Regions from separate parts of the Homo sapiens genome. Here regions 2, 3 and 4 are each reported to be linked to region 1. The links are microRNA targets in miRTarBase. Many come from high-throughput screens and were not tested one by one. Region 1 holds a microRNA gene; each other region holds the end of a gene's coding sequence.

What was found. Region 1 holds the annotated microRNA hsa-miR-106b-5p (UAAAGUGCUGACAGUGCAGAU, at 3,502-3,522, opposite strand). A microRNA usually pairs through its seed, bases 2 to 8, with sites in the 3' UTR of a target mRNA and lowers its output. Matches are read on the target gene's strand: a 7mer-m8 pairs with bases 2 to 8, a 7mer-A1 pairs with bases 2 to 7 and ends in A, and an 8mer does both.
Region 2: the mRNA of ZNF597 is a reported target of hsa-miR-106b-5p. Seed matches in the 3' UTR shown: 8mer at 1,329-1,336.
Region 3: the mRNA of REV1 is a reported target of hsa-miR-106b-5p. The part of its 3' UTR that is shown has no 7-base or 8-base seed match.
Region 4: miRTarBase lists GOLT1B as a target of hsa-miR-106b-5p. The part of its 3' UTR that is shown has no 7-base or 8-base seed match.

Annotation. Positions count from the first base shown.
Region 1 is chr7:100,090,542-100,097,541 of GRCh38, forward strand. It overlaps MIR106B (microRNA 106b), which reads right to left and starts at 3,533; the gene lies at 3,452-3,533. It overlaps COPS6 (COP9 signalosome subunit 6), which reads left to right. Exons shown (of 10, transcript NM_006833.5): 5 at 51-113; 6 at 361-408; 7 at 497-611; 8 at 697-789; 9 at 879-979; 10 at 1,108-1,646. The coding sequence ends at 1,248. It overlaps MCM7 (minichromosome maintenance complex component 7), which reads right to left. Exons shown (of 15, transcript NM_005916.5): 10 at 6,760-6,843; 11 at 5,233-5,626; 12 at 4,846-4,929; 13 at 3,632-3,800; 14 at 2,751-2,860; 15 at 2,187-2,592. The coding sequence ends at 2,391. MIR25 (microRNA 25) reads right to left here and starts at 3,102; the gene lies at 3,019-3,102. It also overlaps MIR93. RefSeq lists enhancers at 1-25, 885-1,179, 4,960-5,460.
Region 2 is chr16:3,430,498-3,437,659 of GRCh38, reverse strand. It overlaps ZNF597 (zinc finger protein 597), which reads left to right. Exons shown (of 4, transcript NM_152457.3): 4 at 122-5,246. The coding sequence ends at 1,236. Among named protein-coding and RNA genes, the nearest start is that of ZNF597, 9.4 kb to the left of the region's middle. RefSeq lists a silencer at 5,462-5,511 and enhancers at 5,772-5,941, 5,708-6,209.
Region 3 is chr2:99,395,458-99,402,619 of GRCh38, reverse strand. It overlaps REV1 (REV1 DNA directed polymerase), which reads left to right. Exons shown (of 23, transcript NM_016316.4): 22 at 274-376; 23 at 1,268-2,143. The coding sequence ends at 1,379. EIF5B (eukaryotic translation initiation factor 5B) reads right to left here. Exons shown (of 24, transcript NM_015904.4): 22 at 5,722-5,860; 23 at 3,711-3,872; 24 at 1,294-3,313. The coding sequence ends at 3,206. Among named protein-coding and RNA genes, the nearest start is that of EIF5B, 62 kb to the right of the region's middle.
Region 4 is chr12:21,514,630-21,521,789 of GRCh38, forward strand. GOLT1B (golgi transport 1B) reads left to right here. Exons shown (of 5, transcript NM_016072.5): 5 at 1,040-3,779. The coding sequence ends at 1,078. Among named protein-coding and RNA genes, the nearest start is that of SPX, 8.1 kb to the right of the region's middle.

The sequences.
Region 1 (7,000 bases):
GGAGAAAGGTAGGGGGCACTGACTTCCTGTGCATTGTCCCTCTCTTCCAGGTGTGTGAGATCATCGAGAGCCCCCTCTTTCTGAAGTTGAACCCTATGACCAAGCACACAGATGTGAGTAATACTCCATGCCTACTCTGTCATGATTGTCGCTATACCTTTTACTGTGTGACACTCCTCTATTGGGGAATGCCAGATGCCACTTACCAGCTGTGACTCTGGCTTAGTCATTTAATCTCCAAACTGTGAAAGGAGGTAATCCCTACTTCATTGGTTTCTTGGGAAGATGAGAGGAAATGTGTAAAAGCAGCTAGCCCAAATGTTGGCATATAGTGTTCAGGTTTCTCCGTCTCCTTCACAGCTTCCTGTCAGCGTTTTTGAGTCTGTCATTGATATAATCAATGGAGAGGTAATACCCTACCCTTCAACCCTCAGATCCTGCTCTTGGCCTCTTTCCTGCTTTTGATTCTCCCTTTGTGGGTTACCTTGCCCTGTAGGCCACAATGCTGTTTGCTGAGCTGACCTACACTCTGGCCACAGAGGAAGCGGAACGCATTGGTGTAGACCACGTAGCCCGAATGACAGCAACAGGCAGTGGAGAGAACTCCACTGGTAATGGAGGGGATTCCTTGGAAGTGGGGTTGGAAGGTGTGGCCACATCCCGTCTCAACCTCCTCCTGTCCTCATCCCCTTGCAGTGGCTGAACACCTGATAGCACAGCACAGCGCCATCAAGATGCTGCACAGCCGCGTCAAGCTCATCTTGGAGTACGTCAAGGCCTCTGAAGCGGGTAGGACAGGGGCTTCCCTGGCATTCTTCCTCTCCCTCCTGGGGAAGTGACAGCATCCAAACTAATGTAGTCTCTTTTTGTGCCTTTAGGAGAGGTCCCCTTTAATCATGAGATCCTGCGGGAGGCCTATGCTCTGTGTCACTGTCTCCCGGTGCTCAGCACAGACAAGTTCAAGACAGATTTTTATGATGTGAGTGTAAAACCCGGATGGGGAGGCGGGGCTTATGCTGTCACTTTCACGTGCAGGACTGGGGACTGTTGTTCCCCGGGCATGCCACGAGGGATCCCGAGGAACTGGTCCTTTCTGTTCCCTCCCAGCAATGCAACGACGTGGGGCTCATGGCCTACCTCGGCACCATCACCAAAACGTGCAACACCATGAACCAGTTTGTGAACAAGTTCAATGTCCTCTACGACCGACAAGGCATCGGCAGGAGAATGCGCGGGCTCTTTTTCTGATGAGGGTACTTGAAGGGCTGATGGACAGGGGTCAGGCAACTATCCCAAAGGGGAGGGCACTACACTTCCTTGAGAGAAACCGCTGTCATTAATAAAAGGGGAGCAGCCCCTGAGCACCCCTGCTGGTGGCTCTGTCCTCTGTTAGGCACCACACTGGTTGGTCAACTTGGATGTTCATCGAGGCTCATTCTGGCCTTGCTCAGAAGCCCTTCTGATGCTCTTCAGTGAGGGAGGCACTACCATTTGAAGTGACCCCATGTCAGTCACATGGACTGGTCTTTAGCAAAGTCCAAGGCTGCCTGCTTCCACCTAAGTGGTCTCTGTTCTACACTTTAATGTCACCCTCTACATCATCTTACCTAGCCCACCCAACCTTATAAACATGATAATTGACTACTTTCCTGAGCTAAATTAACTTGTTTTTCACATACGCAAAAAAGAAGGGATAGTAAGCAGATTTTTATTAGAAAGAAGTCCAAGCCTTGATCCTGTGGGCACTGTGAATTACCAGGAGGGAGAGTTTCTCAATGACCGTTTACTACATATTTTGGAGAGGCAGCTAGGAAGTGGTCTAAAGGTTGGGATTGCTGTATGTGATCACTTGTGCTGATTTTCATCACCCGCTAACCAGAGCTTTAGAGTGGGAGTTGGGAACTAAGTAATGACCTGTCTGCTAGAAAAGGGGAAAAACCAAGAGACCCTGCATTTCATACTGGCGCCATATCCCCAGAGCCTGACTTGCACACAGGCAGTATAAGACCAAATAAGGGAGTCGGGGGGCTCAAAAAGTGGAGCCCCATCTTAAGTATCTCCAAACAGCAGGGACCGCTTAGTCCTTGCCGCATCCCCAGTGTCTATACTGGGGGCCTGGCAGGGAGATGCACTTTACTCAGGTAATTTACTGAGTGGATGAAATAGCATAAAAACGAACAGGAATCTAAAAAACGCACAAAACCCTGTTTTAATGGAAGTCAGGCCCAGGCTAGAAGATGACAATCTACAAACACTTTTATTAGCAAAAGGAGTAAGTGCAGCATGGGAGAAAGAGGGGCTCCTCCTTCCCCTCAAAGGCATCACTGCCCCTTCCCAAGGGGCAGGCCAGCAGGGAACAAGAGGACCCCAGGGTTGCAAGCAGGCTGGAATCAGACAAAAGTGATCCGTGTCCGGGAAGCATTGACCTGCCAGACATTGAGCTCCTCATATTCATCCAGAGCCGCCTGGAACTGGGCGGGTGTGAAGCCACGAGATACACAGCGCTGCTCTGCCTCAGAGAACCGGACACTTCGGCCCCCTGAGACCAGTTCACGGACGGTGGCAAATATCACATCTGCTGGTCTCTGAGTCCTGAAGGAAATGAGTGGGTGTGTAAGGTCAGGATACAAACAGGAATGCTCGACATCAACAGAGAACAATGGTGGCCAGTGTTAGAATTGAGGCCAACCTCAGACACATGGCCACAGAAGACAAAGTGACACAGCTTTGTCCTTCACTAAACCACTCACCTAGCTGTCTGCCCCTTGTCTCCTAGAAGAGAGTCCTTTGACATCTCCATTAGCCTGATGGCTTCATTCACATCTTCTTTCTCCACCACATCCACCATTCTCAGACGTGCCTAAGGGGAAGGTAGGGGGGAAAGATGGGAACGGGAGGAGGGCAGTGGAACGAGGTCAGGGGACACCCTTGTTCTGGCTTTAAGGCTGGGCAGCCCATGGGTCGCCTACTCACAAAACAGGAGTGGAATCCCCCCTCCCCCCAGCATCCGCAGTGTTGGGCCGGCACTGTCAGACCGAGACAAGTGCAATGCCCAGGGCAGCGTCCAGCAATTGCCCAAGTCTCCGCCTCTCAACACTGGCCAGTCCCGGAGTTCAGCTGTCCTGTGAGGGAGACCAGACCCTTTTGAACGCCACTGGGCTCCCCAGCATGACAGATGGAGCTTGGGGAGCTCAGCCAAGAAGACAATTGGCAGAGAGAACGTGTCCCGGGGGCTCGGGAAGTGCTAGCTCAGCAGTAGGTTGGGTAATCACACTACCTGCACGAACAGCACTTTGGAGCCCCCAGGACTGAGGTCCAAGACGGGAGGACAGAAAGGAAGGTCTGTAGCACAGGATCTAGGACACATGGAGTGAAACAGACCCCAACCACCCTCTCAGTGAAGGTTAAGAAGTGGGGAAAAGGCCTTTCCCTCCACGGACGCTGTGCGTGCCCTGCTGGAGCAGCAAGTACCCACAGTGCGGTAGCACGGAGAGGACCACTATCTGCACTGTCAGCACTTTAGCCCCGGCAGGGCTGGAGCGGGAGGTGGGGAGGCGGCAATGAGAGCACGGTAAGGAGCTACCCCTTTAAGGGTCAAAACAGATGGCCCTCCAGCAATTTGGGCACTTACCAGAGCAGTGGAAAGGCGCAGGATAGCCAGCAGGGTCCGGGCAGAAGTATAGGTGGCATCCTTACTAGCCCAAGCCTCTCGCCTCATCTCCACGTATGCTGCTGTGATGTAGTCAGCCAGAGACTCTGGCACCATGGGCTGCTTCTCGCGGCACATGGCTATGTAACGCCTGTGGGGGAAGGTTCATGGGGAAGCAGAAGAGGGAGATGGGGAAGGGAGTGAATATGAGCCCATGTTGTTTTCTGTACCAGGGCTCCCCATTTAACATGGTCCCCTCCAAGAATTTTAAGTGGAAAACACAAATTAGTGGGTGATTATTTGCTTGGCTTGAATATCACTGATGGATTTCACCAAACGTATAGCCCCCACCAGTATCCTCCAAGTTATTTCCTATTTTTTTCGGGAAAATGGCCTTTGTAAGACAAATCCGTCTGTCATTAAGAGAGGATCCAGACCCCTCCTCTGAGCGCATGACATGGCAAAACATATATTTTATTTAAAGAGAACTGTTTACAGAATATTTAAAAGGGAGTAAAAACCGGAAAGAACACTGGAGGCTCATGGGAAAATAGCGATAGAGATTATCATCCAGAATGCCTGGGAGCAGGTGTTTTAAACTTTAAATTTTGGAGTATTTGCATATGCATGAGATAGCTTGGGGATGGGACTCCAGTCTAAACATGAAATTCACCTGTATTTCATATACAACTGATACACATAACCTGAAGGTAATTTTATTAAAAATATTTTTGTGGGCCAGGAGCAGTGGTTCATGCCTGTAATCCCAGCACTTTGGGAGGCAGAGGTGGGCATCCTGGCCAACATGGTGAAACTGCTCTCTACTAAAATACAAAAAATTAACCAGGCGTGGTGGCGTGCGCCTGTAATCCCAGCTACTCAGGAGGCTGAGGCAGGAGAATCGCTTGAATCTGGGAGGCAGAGGTTGCAGAGAGCTGAGATCACTACACTCCAGCCTGGGTGACAGAGCAAGACTTCGTCTCAAAAAAAATAAATAGTGTAGGAAACAAAATTTCCTGTGTCCCTATGATATGAAGTGTGGAATTTTCCACTTAAAAGCTGATCTGAGGCTCTGGACATGTCTGTAGCGGGAAGTGGTGGTGTGAAAAACACACACCCTAAGACTAATAAGCACTTTTTCAGGAGGCTCGCACGGCCCACGCCAACGTTTGCCCACCCGCACCCAGCTCTCCTACCTCATGAGCTTCATGTCCAGAGGTTCAAACTGGGAGGGGGGCTGCCGGCTGTGCTGGTGCACATAGGTGATGTGCTGGGCCAACCTGGACAGAGGGAAGGTTAGAAGGAACACCCTTTTTAGGGCTACGCACCCATGTCCTCTTAGGTGTCCCTCCTTTGGCTCTGCCACTTCCTCACAGTGTAGGAGGGACAAGCTTTCCCGGGAAATCCTCATCAGCATTTCAGCCCCAACCCACCATTTCCCTGAGAACCATGGACCAGCCCCTGCTGCAAAGGGGAGGCTCTGGGGTTTCCAGGAGCGTGGAATTTGTTTTCTGATTCACCTCTCCTCCTCCCTACACAGATCATTACAGGGGACCTCTCTTTGGGTGTTGAGCTTCATTCACCGTAGGTCATTGTCTCGGTCGGGCCGGTCCTGAATCAGCCAGAGGAGGTCAAACCGGGAGAGCAGTGCAGCAGGTAGCTGTATGTTCTGCTCCAGGCTGCGGCGAGGGTTGTAGCGCCCGTAGGCAGGGTTGGCGGCAGCCAGGATGGAGCAGCGGGCATTGAGTGTGGTGAGAATGCCGGCCTTGGCAATGGAGATGGTCTGCTGCTCCATGACCTCGTGGATGGCTGTGCGGTCGGCCTCAGCCATCTTGTCGAACTCATCAATGCAGCACACACCCTGGTCAGCCAGCACCAGGGCCCCACCCTCTAAGGTCAGTTCTCCACTCACGGAGTCTCTCAGCACAGCTGCCGTAAGCCCCACTCCTGAGGAGCCCCGGCCTGTTGTGTACTGGCCTGGAAGAGAAGAAATAAGGAACCATGAGAGAGAAAGAACAAGAAAGAGAACAAGCAAAAGACAACAAACGGGCCAGGGAGGCGAGGCCTGCGCTGGGATCATTCCACTCCCTCCACCAGGCCTTCTTGAGATGCCCGAGGATCTGTGGGGCACTGGCAATGTCCCCCTTCCCCTCCCACTGGTTCTCTTCAGAACACAACTGTGGCTCACTGAAACCTTGGCTCCTGGGCTCAAGCCATCCTCCGGCCTCAGCCTCCCAAGTAACTGAGACTATAGGCACTCACTACCACACCCAACCAATTTTTAAAACTTTTTAGTAGAGGCCGGGCGCAGTGGCTAACTCCTCTAATCCCAGCACTTTCGGAGGCCGATAACAAGGCGGGCAGATCACGAGGTCAGGAGTTCGAGACCAGCCTGCCCAACACAGTAAACCCTGTCTCTACTAAAAATACAAAAAGTGGCCAAGTGTGGTGGCACGCGCCTGTAGTCCCAGCTACTCGGGAGGCCGAAGCAGGAGAATTGCTTGAACCTGGGAGGCAGAGGTTGCAGTGAGCCAAGACCATGCCATTGCACTCCAGTCTGGGTGACTGAGACTCCGTCTCAAAAAAAACAAAAAACAAAACAATACCCAAACAACAAAAAAAACTTTTTAGGCCGGGTGCGGTGGCTCACGCCTGTAATCCCAGCACTTTGGGAGGCCGAGGCGGGCGGATCACGAGGTCAGGATATCGAGACCATCTGGCTAACACGGTGAAACCCCGTCTCTATTAAAAATACAAAGAATTAGCCAGGCGTGGTGGCGGGCGCCTGTAGTCCCAGCTACTCGGGAGGCTGAGGCAGGAGAATGGCGTGACCCCAGGAGGTGGAGCTTGCAGTGAACCGAGATAGCGCCACTGCACTCCGGCCTGGGCGAAAGAGCAAGCCTCTATCTCAAAAAAAACAAAAACAAAAACAAAACTTTTTAGTAGACATGGAAGCGGTCTCAAAATCCTCGCCTCAAATGATTCTCCTGCCTCAGCCTCTCAGAGCATTGGGATTACAGGCGTGAGCAAACATGCACCCCTACTTTTTGAATAAACACTGTGGTCCTGTCTGTCACTATATTCACCTCCCGCAAAGCCCAACTACTTACTGCGAGGCGCCAGTCGATCAATGTATGACAGGAGCTGAGACTTGGCCACACCAGGATCCCCCATCAGACAGATGTTGATGTTGCCTGGAGGAAGGGAAGGCAGCCCTGGAATGACTCTTCTCCCAGTGCTTGGCCAACAACAGAGCAATTTTGAGTTCTGCCTACCCCTAACACCCAGCACTATTTCTAAGCCCTCCCTGTGTCCACGAAGGCAAGATGTCCACTCATACTGTGACCTACA
Region 2 (7,162 bases), not on the chromosome of region 1:
GGTTATAGAATAACCCTTCTAAGGTTTCCTGGTCCTGTTTGTAACTACCTTAGCTTACTTTTTCCCCAGTATCCCTTGAAGATATTGTCTATGTTTTGCTTTCTTTTGTTTTTATCAACAGGAGAGGAAGGCAAGCCTGAGATTAATCAGCAGTTAAGCCTAGAGTCTATGGAACTTGACGAGCTTGCCTTAGAAAAGTACCCCATTGCTGCACCCCTTGTCCCTTACCCAGAAAAATCCTCTGAGGATGGAGTTGGAAACCCTGAAGCGAAAATATTAAGTGGAACTCCCACTTACAAGAGAAGGGTCATCAGCCTTTTAGTTACCATTGAAAACCACACCCCATTAGTAGAACTCTCTGAATATTTAGGAACCAACACACTTTCTGAAATTCTTGATTCTCCCTGGGAAGGAGCCAAAAATGTGTACAAATGTCCTGAGTGTGACCAAAACTTCAGCGATCATTCATACCTAGTTTTGCATCAGAAAATTCATTCAGGAGAGAAAAAACATAAATGTGGTGACTGTGGAAAGATCTTCAATCATAGAGCCAACCTGAGGACACACAGGAGAATCCATACTGGTGAGAAACCTTATAAGTGTGCCAAGTGCAGTGCCAGCTTTCGCCAGCACTCTCATCTATCCCGACACATGAATAGCCACGTAAAGGAGAAGCCCTATACATGTAGCATATGTGGTAGAGGTTTTATGTGGCTCCCAGGATTGGCACAGCATCAGAAAAGCCACAGTGCTGAAAACACCTACGAATCTACTAACTGTGATAAACATTTTAATGAGAAACCAAATCTTGCTTTGCCTGAGGAAACATTCGTATCAGGCCCCCAGTACCAGCACACTAAGTGCATGAAGAGCTTCAGGCAGTCCTTATATCCTGCCCTTTCCGAGAAGAGCCACGACGAGGACTCTGAACGCTGCAGCGATGATGGGGACAATTTCTTCTCATTCTCAAAATTCAAGCCCTTACAGTGTCCTGACTGTGACATGACCTTTCCTTGTTTCTCTGAGCTTATTTCCCATCAGAACATTCATACAGAGGAAAGGCCCCATAAGTGCAAAACATGCGAGGAAAGTTTTGCTTTGGACTCAGAACTTGCATGCCACCAGAAGAGCCACATGCTAGCGGAACCTTTTAAATGTACCGTGTGTGGGAAAACTTTCAAGTCGAATTTGCATCTCATTACTCATAAGCGAACTCACATAAAAAACACCACGTAAAGTAAATATAACAAATTGTTATTAGTGATTGGGCTTTTCAGTATCTGTATGGTGGGAAGCAGTTACTGTATATGTCCCAGGCAATGTGCTAAGCACTTTACACACATTCCCATGTAATACTTAATTCTCAGCACAACCGTGATTTAGGCAGTATCATTTCCATTTTATAAGTAGGGATGCAAAATCCGTGTCACTAAACTAGTGAATGAACCCAGGATTTGAACTCAGTTACTGTACAACTGTGAGCCAGAAGAAGATACACAACTTTTGTTTAAATTCAATTTTCATTAAAATGAAGGCTCTTGCTAAAGTTATTTTAATTTTGTTTACGTAGTTTCTGACTTTTAGAAGGAGGAGAATTTATTTATATTTTGCCAGTTCTGCAGACATATCTAGGAAAGTAAATGCTTTTATATGTTTTATACTTTTTTTTGCTATAACTATTTGAATGTAATACTTGTATAAGATTGCTGTTCTACATGTGAATTCCCACAGGCGTTCAGAAGTTTTTTTCTGCCCTGTAAAAGTTCCCAAATGGGTAGACTAGTTTATATTTTGATGGCCATTAGTATCCGGAGTTCTCTGTCATGGTTCTGATGCCAGGGGCACATACTGGCATTTAGGACCCAATTGTTTGCAAGGAGTTTTGGAAGTCTAACTGCAGCCCTTTTCTGGAGGCTGGACTTGACTTGGGGAGGGGGAGAAGTACTTGCTCTTTTCTAAGATTTGCCTCCAAATTGCTACTGAAGCACATTACCTGTCTTACTATGAATAATTGTAATTGTTTCTCAGTGAGCATGCTAGCTACTTTAGATATATTATGTAATTTAATCTTCAGAATCTGTGACAGAGAAAAAAAATCTTTGTTTCATAAACGAGGAAACTGAAGTCCTCAGAGGGTAAAGTCAGTTCTTTGCCCAGCACACAAATCACATTGTGGTGAAACTGACATTAAGCTTGGGTTTCTCTGACTCCAAAGGCCATGCAGTCTGCAAGACTGCGGCATTTGTTGGCATTTGCACCACGTAGTAGCACTGCAGGCAGCCAGGGAAAGGGGAGCTGAGATAGGTGAGGGTGGTCCTCATGGAGGCGATTCTGTGTGCTTGCATCCTGGAACCCCTTCATTCCCTTTGTGCTGTACCCAAAGCCTGACTAACATATACAGTTACAAAGCAGCAGAAGACTCTCCAGGACTTCAGGTTTGAATTCTTGTCCCTCTAATCAGATGAGAGATTTCACACTTGGCAGAGTACAATACTGAAGGTCTTAACTGGGTTTTGGTTTTTTAAAAAACACCCATAACATTTCCTCTCCATCTCCAAAGAAAATGCATATAGAAAATTGTTAGATTTTAACCAAAATACTTGATAATATATAGATCTTTAGATATTGCTATTATAGATAAATACTGGAGCAAAATATTATTAAATGGTATGGTTATTAATGTTAAAGAACCACAGAATGTTGTAAATATAGATTCATATACAATTTCTCATTAAAGTCGATTGTATGCCTATCAGCAAAACAATATTTACATGGGTTTTGATTAGGATGGAAGAATGCTCTCATTCTATTTAAATAGACAGTATAAAAGTACAATATTTGCTAAAATTGAATTGTTGCTGGGAATTTTTGCTGGGAGAAAAGATAAAGGACTCTTGAGGACTAATTATATGGAAGGTAGCAGAAGGTGGTCCTACAGAACAGCAGATTGAGGACTAAATATACAAAAAATGCTGGCTACTCAGCTAAGCTCTTATTACTGAGTAGAGGCAGGAAGATACTGTTCAGGTGAGAGAAAAACTGAAACTAACAAAAACATCCCTAACCCAGAGAGAGTTTCTCTCTCTTTGTCATTCTTGTCTTGTTTCTTGTTTGCAGATCCACAGTTGAGACAATGTGCTGCTCTGTATGTCAAGGTCAGACTTTGGCTGTTTGTTTCTGATGTCTCCACTCTTAGGAGACAGGACACCAGCTTCCAGGTTTCTCTGAGGTGCTTTGAAATGTGTAGAAAGATAGTCTCCAGTTAGATTACTTATTAGGCAACTCTGAGATACCATGACCTTTGTTAAATAACAAGAACACCACCTCCTTGCTCTCCTGCTTCTGCCCTCAGTGGGAGAAACTGGCAGGAGCCTCATCAGCACATATCAGGGGCCCTAAGAGTTCAGTCAAAGATCTAATGAGTCACAGGATGGGGGATGAAATTGGGAAAGGTCTGGATTAGCAGAGTTGCTGCAGAAAGAAGTAGAGGGGAATATCTTAGAAGGCACTTGGACAGAATGGGGGTGATATAAAAGATGTATGCTGTCATTTTTGTTTTGGCTCCTAGAAAATATAGCAGAAAGTGAGAATTTGTGCCATACATCCTGTTCTGCACCTTAATATGGAAGTTTGCCTTTCCACACGAGTCTTCCTTCACAATTAACCTCTAATTTTTTTTTTTGCAGTTTTCTCCAGATTTTGGAAGATTACGACAAACTTCCTAAAAGATTAGAAAAAATAGCCCTTTTCAGAAACATTAACATACGTGTGGGTAGAACTAAAATGGCTTTTTGGTATAATACTGTTAATGATTAGTATGCAGAAAAAAATGAAAACCCCGGAAGTGTCAGTTACTGTGAAAGAGGCATATTTTCAGTTGTGCTTATTGTGCAGTTGTACTTAAATACATTTGCTAGATGTAATTCAAGCTGCTTTACCCCCAGGGAATTGAAGGAAAAGATATATCTGCTGGTGAGCTTCAGGCTTTTTATGATGATGGCATTTCACCCTTCTGTTTACAGTGTCAACTGATGGAGATAAATTCCATAAAATTGTCATTAACTCAGATACTAGCCTTCCATGTTAGGTGCTATTCACAAATACTGGATAAAAGTTAATATGGGAATGAAAAACTAAATGCAAGAGTTTATTGCTATGAATGATTGGTTAACTGCATTTTGCAGCATGGAAATCAACACACTATGAGAGTGAAAACTTTGTGCTGAATAAATTGACTCAGACAAATTTCTCCGTTTTTGTCGTTGATGCAGTGATGAAAATGTATATCCAACAGTTCCTTAACATGATTGCTGGAATAGTTAAACAGTCTTTTAAACAGTCGTCATTGATGAAAACAGCATTTTTCCAATGGAATTCAGATGTCAGCAGTTTACATTTTATAATTTAAGAAATTGTGGAATGTAGTTGTTTTGAATGAGGTCGACTCAGAATAGTTTTATTTAGAGCTTTGTTGCTACAGGTGGTAGTCTATTGACACCTCCTCATTTAACATAGAAAATGACTAACCCAATAATTCAGGGAGTTAAAACTCAAATGACATTTCACAGCAAATGCCATTTTGAGTCTTTGCCTCCTGAGTTTCCATATAATTAAGTGGCAATGTTCTAGTGACTGCAGCATAAGATGTCATACAATCTGAAACTGCAGAGTTTGATCAAAGTAATCTGCAATTTACTGCCTATGTGTACAAAGGGAGACATAGCAGGTTATAGTTTATATGAATAGTCTATTTTGAATGTTCATTAAACTTGTTATCCCTGTGGGATTTTAGTAGGAAAGTGTATTTGCTTTGACCATCTGTTTAACAAAATGATGTTCATTACATTAGAAGTGTATGTATTCATCTGGTTTAGTTTTGTAATTTAGAAGAGCTATTGATCTGATTCAAAGATAACCATTACCCATCTTTCCAAGGCCCATCTAAGTAGTACAGGTGTTTTGTCTTTTAAAATTGACAGTCCTCTTTGCATTAAGTCTGTAGGGGGGGAATACAATATAAATATTCTTCTGTGTAAACGTAAGAATGTGCTGTAATCTCCAGTTCCTTTGGATACCTCAGAATTCTATTTATTGTATACACTTATACTGTTTATTCAATGTTTTGGGTCTTACTCTTTTTGACGTATTCTCATCAGTCTTCACTCTAGTTTGCAAGCTCTGAAGTTATTGATTACGTCTAATGTGCAATTTGGCTTCTATTAAATGCTATTTTATGATGATGGCAATGAAGTGAACTTTTTAAAAAAAATACGTGGTTTTAGGTGGCAATCAGGTTAATTTTGAAGACTGTTAGGATTCTGGTTTAGAGACAGAGAGTGAAGGACTTCGTGCTACTTAATAAGGGAAGTAAAATCGCTTGCTCCCTGGAACTCAGCAGAAAATTCTGGGTCATTCTGGGAAGCTAGCGCTAGACCTCAATTTCCTTTCGTCTTTGCTGTACACAGAAGTACAGGGGCAAGGACCTCTGTCTTCACGGAGCAGCTACTGCCTGGCACGGGTTGCCACTTAAAGCTTGGATTCCGAGTAGCGGATGTGGTGAGTAGGACTCCCAGAAGACCTCGCGCGGCCTCAGGGAGATCCTGGGTCTCCAGCTTGGCCACCAACTGCACGGGTCAGCGGAAGTGTCAACGAGATGACTTGCGCTACAGCGGCACACTGGTGAGGAACCGGAAGCCACGAGCCGAGCCACTTCCGGTGCCCGCTTCCGGTAGCGCCTGCGCATTCCTGGGGCAAGTGGACTGTGGTGAACGGTGGAGATCCAGTGGTGGGGTTTGGCCATGTGCCTGGCCATATCCACTGCATATCGCTAGGTGATCTCCGTGTAAATCTAGCAGTACGGGTAAGAGTGTTTGCGGAGGAACTCCTCAGGTCTCTTCCTCCGCATCAGCAGGAGGGTATCATGGGTGTGACTGTCGGGCACTAACACGAATCTCCATCCCATGATTCTAGGCGTTAGGACTGGAGAAGCAGCTCCGGGCCACCGTCCCAGCTCTAATCTCACTTAGGCAATGCAGAGCTGTGGGCCTGACTACCACGTGTGTCTCTGGCTTGTTGAAATGGGCACTTTGTACATCTCACTTGTGCTGGGTAGAGTGTCTTTTCTTTAGAACCAGTACCAATCTCTTAGGCTTTTGGCATTCTCTGCAGCCAAATTCTAACATGCTTCTACTTAGCTGGAATGTACCCTCGGCTTACCTTTGGTAAATGGTATCTCCCCAGGTGAGCTTAGCCACTTCCATGGCTACAAAGACCTCATTTTAGGTCTAGCTCCAATTTCTTTTCTATGTACTCCAGATTCCTACATTCAGGTGCCTACAGGAGTCGTCTTTTAGATGTCTCTCAGGCATCAAAACACATGCCCTTAACTCATGCTTTTAGCCCCTGATCTGTTTGCCTCCAGTATGTGGGGCCACATCCATACAATTGCTCATGCTATCAACAAACACTCCCTCTTTCCTCTTGCTATGGCTTGAATATTTGTGTACCCTAAAAATTCATGTGTTGGAATTCTAACACTTAAACTGATGTTATTAGGAGGTGGGGACTTTGGCAGACCCCTCATGATTGGGATTAGTGTCCTTATAAAAGAGACTGCAGGCCGGGTGTGGTGGCTTACGTCTGTAATCCCAGTGCTTTGGGAGGCCAAGGTGTGAGAATTGCTTAAAGCCAGGAGTTCAAGACCGGCCTGGGAAACATAGCGACACGCCATCTTTTCAAAAAATTTATTTAGCCCGGTGTGGTGGCTGGTGCTTGTAGTCCTAGCTACTTGGGAGGCTGAGGCAGGAGGATTGCTTGAGCCCAGGAAGTTGAGGTTACAGTGAACTATGATTGGCCCACTGTACTCGAGCCTGTGAGGACCCAGCAAGAAGGTGCCATTGTGGAAATGGCCCTCACCAGACAATGAATCTGCCAGCACCTTGATCTGGGTTTCCTAGCCTCTAGAACTATGAGAAAAAAATTTCTGTTGTTTATAAACTACCTGGCTTATGGTAACTTTTTATAGAAGCCAGAACAGACTAAGACATCACATCCACTCAATCATCAAGTCTCATGGATTCTACCTCAAAAGTATCACCAAAACCTGAATGTTTCTGTCTCCCCTGTCCCCATCCTATCCAACAGTACTCACCTGGGTTACCTG
Region 3 (7,162 bases), not on the chromosome of region 1:
CCCAAGGCTGAGATGTAGTCGTCTCATGATTTGAGAACATAAACAGACTAAACTATGCAGATTTAACCCATTTCTCTAACTCTGATAAGCTTAAAGCAGCTACCCCCAAATCTTTTAAATTCTGGGACTTGCTTTGAAAAGTAACAAAGCCCATTCCTTTGATAGCTGTTAGTGACATAGTTGTAGAAATGCAGTTTTCCTTTATCCATGCAGATCTCTGACTTTCTCCTTCAAAAAGACTGGTCCTCATTTGAAGTTTTTCCCCCTTCCTAGATCCAATGGAAGAAGACATTCTCCAAGTTGTGAAATACTGTACTGATCTAATAGAAGAAAAAGATTTGGAAAAACTGGATCTAGTTATAAAATACATGAAAAGGTAGTAATTCATCACTTTTATCAAATGGGAAAAAATGGCATGTCACAATGGCTGAGGGTGTACTGAGTTGTTTTAAACTTTCTGGGAAACTGTACTCATTAGGGTTAATGAGAAAGTGATATCCTTTATTTTGCCATGTTGACTAAGTAGCAAATAAGGTTCCAAATATGTTGCCCTCAAGGTCTTACATGTGATTAAAAAACCATAGGAAGTGGGCTGGGCACAGTGGCTCACGCCTGTACTTCACTTCGGGAGGCTGGGGTGGGTGGATCGTTTGAGACCAGCCTGGCCAAAATGGCATAACCCCATCTCTACTGAAAAATACAAAAAATAAATAATCTGGGGGGGTGGTGGTGCCCACCTGTGGTCCCAGTTACTTGGGAGGTGGAGGCTGCGGTGAACCATGATTGCACCACTGCATGGCTCCAGCCTGATCGACAGCTTGTCTCAAAACAAAATAAAAAAAAATTTGAGTGTTCTAGGATTTTATTTTTTTTGAGATGGAGTCTCACTCTGTCGCCCAGGCTGGAGTGCAGTGGCAGGATCTTGGCTTACTGCAGCCTCTGCCTCCTGGGTTCCAGTGACTCTCCTGCCTCAGCCTCCCGGGTAGCTGGGATTATAGGCATGTGCCACCATGCCCACCTAATTTTTCTATTTTTTGTAGAGACGGGGTTTTACCATGTTGGCCAGGCTGGTCTCAAACTCCTGACCTCAGGTGATCCGCCCTCCTCGGCCTCCCAAAGTGCTGGGATTACAGGCATGAGCCACACCGCACCTGGCCAGGACTTTTTTTTTTTTTTGCCAAAGTCAATTTTTATATATAAAAAGGAATAATTAGTCTTAAGGACCTTTCCTAATTCCTAATGACATTTCTTCTCTCCCCACCTTTAGGCTGATGCAGCAATCGGTGGAATCGGTTTGGAATATGGCATTTGACTTTATTCTTGACAATGTCCAGGTGGTTTTACAACAAACTTATGGAAGCACATTAAAAGTTACATAAATATTACCAGAGAGCCTGATGCTCTCTGATAGCTGTGCCATAAGTGCTTGTGAGGTATTTGCAAAGTGCATGATAGTAATGCTCGGAGTTTTTATAATTTTAAATTTCTTTTAAAGCAAGTGTTTTGTACATTTCTTTTCAAAAAGTGCCAAATTTGTCAGTATTGCATGTAAATAATTGTGTTAATTATTTTACTGTAGCATAGATTCTATTTACAAAATGTTTGTTTATAAAGTTTTATGGATTTTTACAGTGAAGTGTTTACAGTTGTTTAATAAAGAACTGTATGTATATTTTGTACAGGCTCCTTTTTGTGAATCCTTAAAAACTCAACTCTAGGAAGCAACTACTGTTTATTATACTAAAAGGCTGAAAAACCTCCAGGCCAGACTGCTAAGCTCTGAAATTCCTGAGAGGTCTCAGACCGGGATTCTACTTGTTCCAAGAAAGGGTAAAGCTTCTAAACCATCTTATTCTTGTCTCCAAGCATGAACACAGGAGCATGTTAAGAAAATCTTTACTACTTCTTCCATGCGGAGAAATCTACATATTTTGAATTAGAAACACCCTCACACCCACTTGAAGATTTTTTTCCTGGGAACATTATGTCCCGTAGATCAGAGGTGGTGTTGTCTTTTTGCTTCTACTGGCCATTGAGAAACTTTGATGATAAAAAAGAACGGTATAGATTTTTCAAACGTATATAAAATATTTTTATGTTATATGTTATGCCATAACTTTAAAATAAAAATAGTTTAAAATTCTATGCTAGTGGATATTTGGAACTTTTTCCTCAAACAAACACCCCACACTGACTTCAGCAAAACCCTAAAACTAGCTACAGATTACTACTACGAATGAATCATTAAGTTTTGTGTCTGCAACAATTTAGAAGCACTAAGCCCAAATATCAGGAAATGTGTGTATGATGGAATTTTCTAGGACAAAACAGATCAAGATTAAAACAGATCAAGATTAATGTATAAAAATCTCTACTAAAACAGATCAAGATTAAAACAGATCAAGATTAATGTATAAAAATCTCTACTGTTACCAGGTGCTGGCATACAAGGTAGTGTGATGATAGTTTAGTTTGTAAGATAATTCTTGTCCTAGGAGGACAACTTGTGGGAGAGAAGCTACACTAACATGGAAGCCTAACAGAGCTTGCTTACTGGTGGATGTCTGTTTTCTTTATTGGTAGTTTGGTTTAGAATTGTGATGATTACAATGGACTCGTGACTACACAAGCAGTAAAAAGCAGCCAGCTGTGCTTTTACACCATGGTTTCACACAAAGCAGCTAAAGAAATATCAGAATGCCTAATTTTCTATTTTATAAAAGCCCTAAAGGCATATGGCAGAAGAATGCTGGAAAAATCACTGTGGGAAGAATATGCATAAATAAAGAAGTATTTCTTACGTCAAAAAAGTCCCAAGAATCACAAAATCTGCAGAAGCTTGGTTAATCAAATACTGCAGTACTGATTTAATCAGTATAAAATCGAAAGAGCTTTAGATCTGTAATAAAAATCCAAATTTGGGGAAGGGCAAACTTTAAAACAGCAGCCAAGTAGAGAAGGGTTGGGGAAGGGAGAGGTGAGTGAACAGGCACATTGGAACTGTGGGGACATGTAACTGACCACTGTCAAACCAGTGTAAGTTTCTTGGTTTCTCATGGAAAACATTTTATACACCTATTTTTCTTCCTTCCATACTTAAGTCCATCAGTGTCCAAATACGTCTGTTCCATTTTTTGTCTGATTTTTGTTGGGATATTACAACACAGTATTGCATTTACTCCAGTTCCTGCTCCATGTGAAAAAATTAGATGATTTCAAATACTTTCTTCAGCTCCACAATAAGCTGCCAGTCACTCTTCTGCATTTCATCTCTGAACCAGTCTTTGAGTGCATCAATGGACTGCCGGCTGATCTGCAATGCCCGAGGCACAAACAGGGTAAACAGAACATAACAAACGTGCCAAAGAAAGCTGTGGCCCCAGATGCCCGCTCTCACTGTACTAAAAAGCTTAAGCAGAAATAAAAAACAGGGCTTGCCTGCCTAAGGGAGTAGAATTCCAAAATCACATCTGGTTTGCATGTCAGGCACGAGGGGACCTAAAAGTCCTAGCTTTCTCTGTTGGTGCTGCTTTCCTGATAGAGCAACTTCCTCAACAGACAAGGCCCAGCTAGAGGTCAAGCCCTAATGGGGGATCCAGTCCCATCAGATTCTACAATCAAACTGAAGCCCAAGGAGCTACAGGTACAGGTGACCCAAGAAGAGTGATTCCCTGTTGCTTAAAGTGTGCCACTTTTGCTGAAATACTTACCTTACTAACAAGAATATCTGTAGCTTCAAAATGTCTTCCAAACATTTTGGGTGACTCACCAGGGATAGGTTCTATTTTTACACAAACTTCTTGTCCTTTTTTTGCAACATCCACTTGTTTATGGTTTATTTCAATACTTGTTACTATTCCGATGTCAACAAACTATAAAATAAGAACAAATTAAAATGCATGCAGAAGAATTCATGCCAATCACAGGCGCCATGGCTGGATAGCTGAAGTAAGAACTAGAGCAAAAGCCTGTTTTAAAAGTCATGGCAGTGCGATCCTTTCATCACTCACGGTGTAACATTTTGGTAAACTAGGCTGGCACCACCAACACCCTATTCCCTTCATGATGGTTGTAAGAATGACAGGAGATAATGTGCTTTGCAAAACATTCCAAGTGCCCTGTTGACCCAATGTCATTTCCTATTTTTGCTCTACCATTTCACGTGACAGGTGCCGTAATAGGAGGGATCAGCAGGCACAAAGGGTCTGAGTCAGGAATGAGCTTGAAGTGGCTGATGGGAATGAAGTCAGAGTGAGGACCAATCCTGAAATTTTAAGAATGATGGCCTGTGAGCAGATGAGTGATGTGATCTCAGAGTTTGGGGCAAAAAACCCTGACTCCTTTGTGGAGAAAAAGATTCAGGAGAGTAAGAGTGAAAACAGGGAGAGCTCTGGTTGGTTTAGGAGGCCAAAGCCACATAGAAAGTAACACAAATAAATGTCCAGGCTTAGTCCACTGAAATGGTAGAAAAGCAATGACAACTTCTAAGTGCCATTGCCCATTACAAGAACCAGGTTTGGGCCAGGGAAAGTACTAGATGAGGCTGGAACATCTCAACCAGAAAGGAAGATGATGCTCAGACTGCTGTGTGTCAAGGATACAGGAGCCAGTTGAGCTCCTACTGACCACAATAGAAAATCTGAGTATCAAAAGAATAAAGGTAATGGATTATATTAAAAAAAAAAAAACCCACTGAGTCTATGACTCAATAAAAAGGTCAGTGGGAAGAGGTTCTTTGTAAGAAATGGGGGGACAGGTATATCCACAATTTTGCAACCATCTACGTAATAGTTGACTTAGGCAACGCTTGCCAGTGGGTACTAAAGGCACTGGGATAAAGGCTGTTGAGAAACAGGATATCCATTAGGAACTCCAGGTACCAGACAGATTACAGAGTAATTATAAAGGGGCAAGTTTCTAATGGAGATGGTTGGCGTCTAGCACTTTCCCCAGGAAATCAGAGCATCAGCAGCAGTCAGACAGGCTGGGTCATGCAAGAGGCAGGCACACAGGGAAACTGCATGAGTGTCTTTCCAATAATTCTAACCTGTGTCTAGTTGGGAGGGAGAGAAACAGATAAATCCAAATGGAGGAGGGATTTGCAAAACAACAGGGACACTTCAAAAAGAATGGAGGACTGTTCTTGACTGAGGCTCAGCCACAAAACAAGCCCCAGTGCAATGCAGCTTGCAGGGCACTGGGCCAGATTGGTGGGGAGAGTTACCAAAACATCTTTGGAATAACTGGTGAAATAATGTTGAGGGCTGCAAATTATAGGATATTGTTGAAATATTATTAATTTTTCTTAGGTATGCTGACAGAAAGGGAAGGTAAACATGAGTGTTCATTATACTAGTTTTTAAACTTTTCCACAGGCTTGAAACCTTTCAAAATAAAATAAAAGGCAATAATGTAAAGTGCCTTGGAGCCCCAATTAACTGAAGCACTGAGATCAGCACTGAGTCAACACTGACTATGGAGCACTGATATTTACCAATACTGAAGCACAACAGAAGGTGACAGGCTCTGCTTGTTTTAAAGTTACCACATTTTCTTCCTACTGAGGTAAAAACACTGAAACATTTGTTAAGAAGGTGGAGACCACACTAAATACACAGCACAGTACTGTGAACTACAGGCACAAAGCTGTGTTGGTACGACTCTTGGACACTCATTTAGTGCTTTAAGAAATGACCCACAGAATGTACAACTAGAACTTACATTTTTGCTTGGGACACACATGGGTGTCCCCTGTTTCACCTGACCTGCTTCCACCGTCACCCCCATCACTATCGGATCTCGAGAATTAAAAATGTACTGAGGGAGGATTTTTATCTTGCAGGGAAATACTGCTATGTGCCTGAAAGGAAAAAAGAAAAGAATTTTAAGCTTACAGAATCACTTAAACATAAAAAGAAAAACTGCAGCTGAACATCAGGCTTCTCCCATTAGAGGAAAGCAGCTTTCCCCAGCGGCCACAGGAGAGGGGCAGGCAGGGTGCTGCAGCCCAGGGCCACCCCATGCCCAGAGCGCTTCTTCCTTGTTCTTAACCTCCTCCTCCCCATTCTGTTGCTTCCCAAGTCTTTGCTTTCTTCTCTTTTAAAGCCCTACCTCCAAAAGAAGCTGCATCACAGGAGCATTCTGTTCCTAGTCTAAAACACTGAGCTTGGCTGCTGAAGATGTCAGCCACAGTCTGGGGCTTAGAACCTAGGCAGTACCTGGTGACAGGCAGGTCTTCGTTAGGCACATATGTAGGCTACTGGGGGATCACATAGGCATCAGACCGTATTATCACCCTCCTTTTCTCCACCACGTTCCCAAACCATTGATCCAAAAGGCCACTACATAACTACCCTGCTTATTGAGCACACGCTTAAAATGCTTTAAAAGTTTCCAGCAGTCTTGTTAAGTAGAATTCTTCTCACTTCAGGTTTCATGATCTAAAGTGAGCATATACCAGTCTAAATCCTAATATTTACTAGTAAGCTCCACTTAAAAATGTATCCCAAACTACGCCATCACTCCTATCATCACTGTGGTCTGAATCACCTAGACCTCTTGCTTGGACTGTGGGAGCCTCCTGACAGGCTCTTGCCACTGACTTCCTAACAACCCAAGGTCCACATAACAACCCAATTAACCAGTCTGATTGTGAACACACAGCCTTGGCAATGGCTTCTTGCAAAACTCAGAGAAGCTCAATCCCTCCCATGGCCTGTAAGATCCTTGACGATACAGGTCCTGCCACCCTCTCTGACCTCATTTATCACTGTCCCTTCTGGTCACTCTGCCTCGCACTGCTGTTCTCTCTGGACACTCCCCATGTGCCTGTGTGGCTTACTCTGTCTGAAGAGGTGAGATGCCTTCCCAAACCACATCATTAATCACAGTCCCTCCTCTCCTTATCTAGGCCCTTCCCTGCTTTATTTGGTTTTTCAGCACTTCTCAACATGTGTCAATTGTCCTGCAATAAGAGCATGTCCCAGACCAGGCACAGTGGCTTACACCTATAATCCCAGCACTTTGGGAGGCAGAGGCAGGTGGATCACTTGAGCTCAGGAGTTCAAGACCAGCCTGGCCAACATGGCGAAACCCTATCTCTACCAAAAATACAAAAAATTAGCCAGGCATAGTGGTGTGAGCCTGTAGTCTCAACTACTCG
Region 4 (7,160 bases), not on the chromosome of region 1:
TATAGGGGTATACTCTGATTTCATTTGCATTAATCTGCAAATTCATACAGTGGTCAGTGTTATTTATACCTAGAATGGCTTTTGAATGTACTGAAACTTCTAGTTACAGAGTTGTAATCATTATTTGTGCCCTTAATTTAAGGATTCTCAAGAATTTGCATAAATGGACACCCAATACAATAGAATATGTTTCTTATCGTTATTCATCATGATAAGTGCTTATGTAAACATGTGAATCGTGAAACAAAATAAATGATCAGATGATTACTAGAATTTGATAGTATAACCACCTGGGTTATATAACTTTTAATGTCTCTACCAATTATATACAATATCAGTCTTTACATCACCATCTGGAATGTTAAAAAAAAAAAAAAAGCCCAACTGCTTTATGTTTGGGGTGGAGTAACCAAAGTAAATAACCACTTACAGTAATGTGTGTTAAAATTTATATTCAATAATTATAAATTTATGCTTACATCATTAAATCTATCTTTAATGTCATTACCACTTTCAATCCAAAGTCCAGAATACACATTTAAAGTATTTTTAGTCAATAACTGTTGTTAACTATTGAACTTAATGGAGTTAAATCTGTTTGTCCAAAGACTACATAGGCCCAGAAGAGATCCACAGTAATGGTCAGTTGAAATATCTTATTGGGTTCATTAATGCATGAATGGCTGACATTTCAGTTTTTTTTATGTTTTTATTTTTTATTTTTTGTTAAGCTAGCAGTGTTATCTTCATCTTATACAATTTCTTTATTCATTGTGTTGCATTTTTCATGTTGCACCCTTAAATTCATATGTATAACATGTCATGCAAAAAACAACTTTTAGAAAAAAAAATTTTATACACGTTTATGTATCAGAAGATGATGGTGAGTAGTACTGGATTAGTCATTGTCAGTCATACCTTAAATTTCCACAACTCTTCTTGTAAGGCTGGGTTTTTAAAATCAACATTTTAAATATTGATATAATGTTTTATAATGTTCCGGGCTTTCTTTAATTCTCTGTTTTTCTTCTCCTTACAGTTTGTAGATAAAGTTGGAGAAAGCAACAATATGGTATAACAACAAGTGAATTTGAAGACTCATTTAAAATATTGTGTTATTTATAAAGTCATTTGAAGAATATTCAGCACAAAATTAAATTACATGAAATAGCTTGTAATGTTCTTTACAGGAGTTTAAAACGTATAGCCTACAAAGTACCAGCAGCAAATTAGCAAAGAAGCAGTGAAAACAGGCTTCTACTCAAGTGAACTAAGAAGAAGTCAGCAAGCAAACTGAGAGAGGTGAAATCCATGTTAATGATGCTTAAGAAACTCTTGAAGGCTATTTGTGTTGTTTTTCCACAATGTGCGAAACTCAGCCATCCTTAGAGAACTGTGGTGCCTGTTTCTTTTCTTTTTATTTTGAAGGCTCAGGAGCATCCATAGGCATTTGCTTTTTAGAAATGTCCACTGCAATGGCAAAAATATTTCCAGTTGCACTGTATCTCTGGAAGTGATGCATGAATTCGATTGGATTGTGTCATTTTAAAGTATTAAAACCAAGGAAACCCCAATTTTGATGTATGGATTACTTTTTTTTGTAAACATGGTTAAAATAAAACTTTTGTGGTTCTTCTGAATCTTAATATTTCAAAGCCAGGTGAAAATCTGAACTAGATATTCTTTGTTGGAATATGCAAAGGTCATTCTTTACTAACTTTTAGTTACTAAATTATAGCTAAGTTTTGTCAGCAGCATACTCCGGAAAGTCTCATACTTCTTGGGAGTCTGCCCTCCTAAGTATCTGTCTATATCATTCATTACGTGTAAGTATTTAACAAAAAAGCATTCTTGACCATGAATGAAGTAGTTTGTTTCATAGCTTGTCTCATTGAATAGTATTATTGAAGATACTAAATGATGCAAACCAAATGGATTTTTTCCATGTCATGATGTAATTTTTCTTTCTTCTTTCTTTTTTTTAAATTTTAGCAGTGGCTTATTATTTGTTTTTCATAAATTAAAATAACTTTTGATAATGTTTACTTTAAGACATGTAACATGTTAAAAGGTTAAACTTATGGCTATTTTTAAAGGGCTATTCATTTAATCTGAGTTTTCCCTTATTTTCAGCTTTTTCCTAGCATATAATAGTCATTAAGCATGACATATCCTTCATATGATCACTCATCTTGAGTTAATTAGAAAATACCTGAGTTCACGTGCTAAAGTCATTTCACTGTAATAAACTGACTGTGGTTTCTTAAGAACATGACACTAAAAAAAAAGTGTTTTTTTTCCACCGTTGCTGATTATTAGACAGTAGGAAATAGCTGTTTTCTTTAGTTTTACAAGATGTGACAGCTTTAGTGGTAGATGTAGGGAAACATTTCAACAGCCATAGTACTATTTGTTTTACCACTGATTGCACTGTTTTGTTTTTTTAACAGTTGCAAAGCTTTTTAATGCATAAAAGTATAATTGAAATCTGTGGTATTTATTTACAAACATGTCTACAAAAATAGATTACAGCTTATTTTATTTTTAGTTAAATCTCTTAATACACAGAGAACTCCCAATCTTGCTCATCTAAATAAGGAAAGACTTGGTGTATAGTGTGATGGTTTAGTCTTAAGGATTAAGACATTTTTGGTACTTGCATTTGACTTACGATGTATCTGTGAAAATGGGATGATATTGACAAATGGAGACTCCTACCTCAATAGTTAATGGAATAATAAGAGGCTACTGTTGTGTCTAATGTTCTTCAAAAAAGTAATATCCTCACTTGGAGAGTGTCAAATACATACTTTGAGGATTGACTTTATATAAGGTGCCCTGTAGAACTCTGTTACACATATTTTTGACCCATATTATTTACAATGTCTTGATAATTCTACCTTTTTAGAGCAAGAATAGTATCTGCTAATGTAAGGGACATCTGTATTTAACTCCTTTGTAGACATGAATTTCTATCAAAATGTTCTTTGCACTGTAACAGAGATTCCTTTTTTCAATAATCTTAATTCAAAAGCATTATTAGACTTGAAAGGGTTTGATAATCTCCCAGTCCTTAGTAAAGATTGAGAGAGGCTGGAGCAGTTTTCAGTTTTAAATGAGTCTGCAGTTAATATCAAATGTGAGTTTGGGACTGCCTGGCAACATTTATATTTCTTATTCAGAACCCTTGATGAGACTATTTTTAAACATACTAGTCTGCTGATAGAAAGCACTATACATCCTATTGTTTCTTTCTTTCCAAAATCAGCCTTCTGTCTGTAACAAAAATGTACTTTATAGAGATGGAGGAAAAGGTCTAATACTACATAGCCTTAAGTGTTTCTGTCATTGTTCAAGTGTATTTTCTGTAACAGAAACATATTTGGAATGTTTTTCTTTTCCCCTTATAAATTGTAATTCCTGAAATACTGCTGCTTTAAAAAGTCCCACTGTCAGATTATATTATCTAACAATTGAATATTGTAAATATACTTGTCTTACCTCTCAATAAAAGGGTACTTTTCTATTAATTGGTGGTCAAGTATATCTGTGTTATGAAGTTCTAAAAGCTAATTTAGCATTGCAAAATAACCTCATTTTTAAAAAATTAGCCTTATATGCAGTGTTCTATTTATCAAATGATCTTCACATCTTTCATTTCCAAATTGTTGAAATGTACTAATGAATACAAATAGACTTCAAGTAAGCAAAAATGTTCTTAATTTTGAAAACTGTAAAATAAAGTCACTTACCTTGGGCAATATGCTATTTTTTAAAAATCAGACTCCCAGTTTGTATATTATGTTATTCAATAGACATTTTCTGAGTACCCCTTGAATACTAAAAGTCCTGTGTTGAATGTGGGAGACCCAGGAGAACAAGATATGTGCCATCTGCTCATTAAGTGCTTAGAATGTTAACATTGCTTTTAAATTCTTAGCCGTATTTCCACATAACTTGTCCTGACTTACACTGCAAACAAATGGTGGTAGAAGAATTTGCAGTCGAAACACCCCAACCTCTTATTTTTCTCCCAGTCAAGAGTTACTAGAACTATTCAACCTTCAGCTGTGTTGAATAGTTTTAGTAACTCTTGACTGGGAGAAAAGCTGTGTGATTGGTTCGCATTTTCAAAAGATGTCTGGAGGAAAAAAAATAATACCAGCTTTAACTCTGGGAGGTTTGTTTTGAGATGTAATTTCTTTTGCAAGTCTGTATATGTATTCAACTTAATGTAGCGTATGTTTTTGGTTTCTTTGTGGCAGGGGGAAGAGAATTGTTTTTAATGTAGGCCTAGGGATTTAGAACTGTCACTGCTATTTGTGTTGTCTGGAAGCCTGCCACCAAATCTGTATTGCCACAGGCAGTTGGGGTAGTTTTCTGAAAGCTGCTATGATTGCTACCATTAATTGCAAAGTTTAAAAAGCGGTGAGGGAATTTAGAAATTAGAGGAGAAATGCTTATATATTTTTTCTCAGGATGGAAAGGATCTTAAGTTTTTCTCACCTAAATAAGACCACAACACCTACATTGTTTTAACTGTAAATTTTATTAAGGCCGAAAAAAAACACTGGCCAAGTCTACCACTTAACATACCCAGTAAGTATTTGTTGAATTCACTAATTAAGCTGCAAATCCAGACTATTGTTGGGTAAACGGGAAGTCTTGAATCTGTTATTAAATATCCAGCATATTTCTCTAATCTTGACCTGAGCCAAAAGGCCCCAACCTCAGTTCTTCTGTTACCTGTATCCATGTAGGAGATTGGACACTAGCAGCATGCCCAAAATTCTTCATTGACTAACATGCGTTTCCATGACCTTAGCTTTACTCAATTCTCAAGGCCTGATTAAAATGTCACTGCTGTCATATCTTTCCTTACCAGCTAGGCCCAAACAGTTGCTCCTTCCCTGTCCTCTCATACAACTTTCCACTTGCTTTGTATTGATTTGGTTATGGAAAAGATTCTTGAGGTTCGAAATCTCCTCTTTGATTTGTATCTCCAGTTCCTGGCATTTAGTGGGTGCCCAGTAAGTGGTTTAATGAGTGAAAGTTCATTCTTCCAGCTCTTCTGGTGCTGGCCCCACTGATCACTTCTTTTTTTTGTTTGTTCGTTTTTGTTTTTTGAGACTTGCTCTTGTCACCCAGGCTGGAGTGCAGTGGCATGATCTTGGCTCACTGCAGCCTTCACCTTCTGGGTTCAAGTGATTCTCCCGCCTCAGCCTCCTGAGTAGCTGGGATTACAGGCACCCGCCACCACACCTGGCTAATTTTTGTATTTCTAGTAGAGATGGGGTTTTGCCATGTTAGCCAGGCTGGTCCCGAACTCCTGACCTCGTGATCTGCCCACCTCGGCCTCCCAAAGTGCTGGGATTACAGGCTTGAGCCACCATGCCCGGCCTGATCACTTCTAATATATTGAAATCAGCCTCTATCAGCCGTAAAGTTAAATCTAATGATCTGGCCCCCGCTGAAGTCCACCTTTCTACTTCACATTCCTTAGGACTTTACTGTACCCAGTAGCTTGTCAACGGAGAGAGGGATCATAGATAAAAGAAAGACCATGCCTCCAGATTGGCTGCCCTTCTTCACAAAAAAGGGAGGCCGCTGGGGAAACCAGAAGCTACTCCTAAAGTTTTGAGGCTGGTGTGAATCACTGATACTCAGTTTTCCTTTCTTTCCAATAGGAAATGACGAGTTTCTTGGGTTTTGTTGGTCACTGGAGCTGGTATTACAAAGTAAAATTATCCCAAAGAGAAAATGAAATTTATTCCTTAAGTGACAAAAGCCAGAAATAATACCCTATGACAAGAGGGATCACTTGCACGATGGTCTTTTACATATATGAATTAATACTGATAATAATGGGTAATTGAATCCCTGAAGAAGACTCGTCTGATGTGATGTGATCCCATGAGGTGACTATGAGTTCTGTGGCGGTATAAAGACCAGTCTTGGTGCTAAAACACTAACTCTACCATTTAGTGTCATGTCAAGTCAAACTCTATGAGTATGCTCTTAAGTGAAATTCAGGATCTACTGCATGAATTTGGTGTGAAAAATGAATGTAACAATGGGTGTCAAAGGGCTTTCTCAAATTTAAAGTGTTGTGAAAATAACATGTGTTATTGTCCTGAGAGTATTTCTGGCCCAGTGATATAGATTAGAAGTAGGACAACTAACTATCCCATCTTCCTATTGATCACACCTGGCAACAGCTGGTATTCAACCTAATTCACATTGTAGGATTATGGGATCATTCTTCACATTTCTGAGCTACCAGTGTTTATATGGCTCAACATTTCCAAAATGTTGAGTATTAGTGTTTTGTTGTTTGCATCTTGATCCAAGACCTTTTTGCTATATTTGTCCTCTGTCTTTGTGCTGCTCCTACGTAGCATACACCATTAGCAGCCATGTCTTATGAATTATCCTGTAGTAATGGTGGGTGTATATTAATTCATATGCACTATTCTGTCATTTTGGAAATGAATGGTAAAACATTTTAATCCAGAAGTTAGTATGAAATTGGTGAACTTGAGTCTTCCCTGCTTCACTTTTATCTACCCCAACTCCCCCTAAACAGTACTTATCTTAACTCTCCTCAGAAAACCAATATCTTCATATTTTCTCCTCCTCCCTATCTGCAGTTCTGGAGAAAGGATCTGAAACAGTCTGTAAACAAAGAATTGCAATATTATCTGCTTCAGGGTGTGAGCTCATCGGGAATTAACGTGTTAAGTAAAAGGAAACCCAGGTTAAGACATTGGCCAATTAATGGGAAGTTTTATTTTGGATAGCAGGCCTTCTTAATGCCCCTAAAGCCCCTCCTAAAACTGGTAACCCTTTGGGGAAATGACTTCTTTCATCTGATGATGAGACAGCTGGCCTAAGGGGCTGAATACAAGCCCCACAGAAGATTGAACCCATATCTTTATTCATGTTATCCAACCCAAATTCTCTCTATGCTGTCATCAAAAAGTAATTTAGGCATTTTGTACCATAATAGCCATATTGTCCAGATAACCTTATCCAAGATAGCAGCTGTTTTCCTTGTGAACACAATAATCACTGACCTTGAAAGAATGTCATTTAAACAGTGACAGGTGATCACTGGTTAAATAGGTTCTGGGCACTCTACAGTCGACTACAAGAATCCA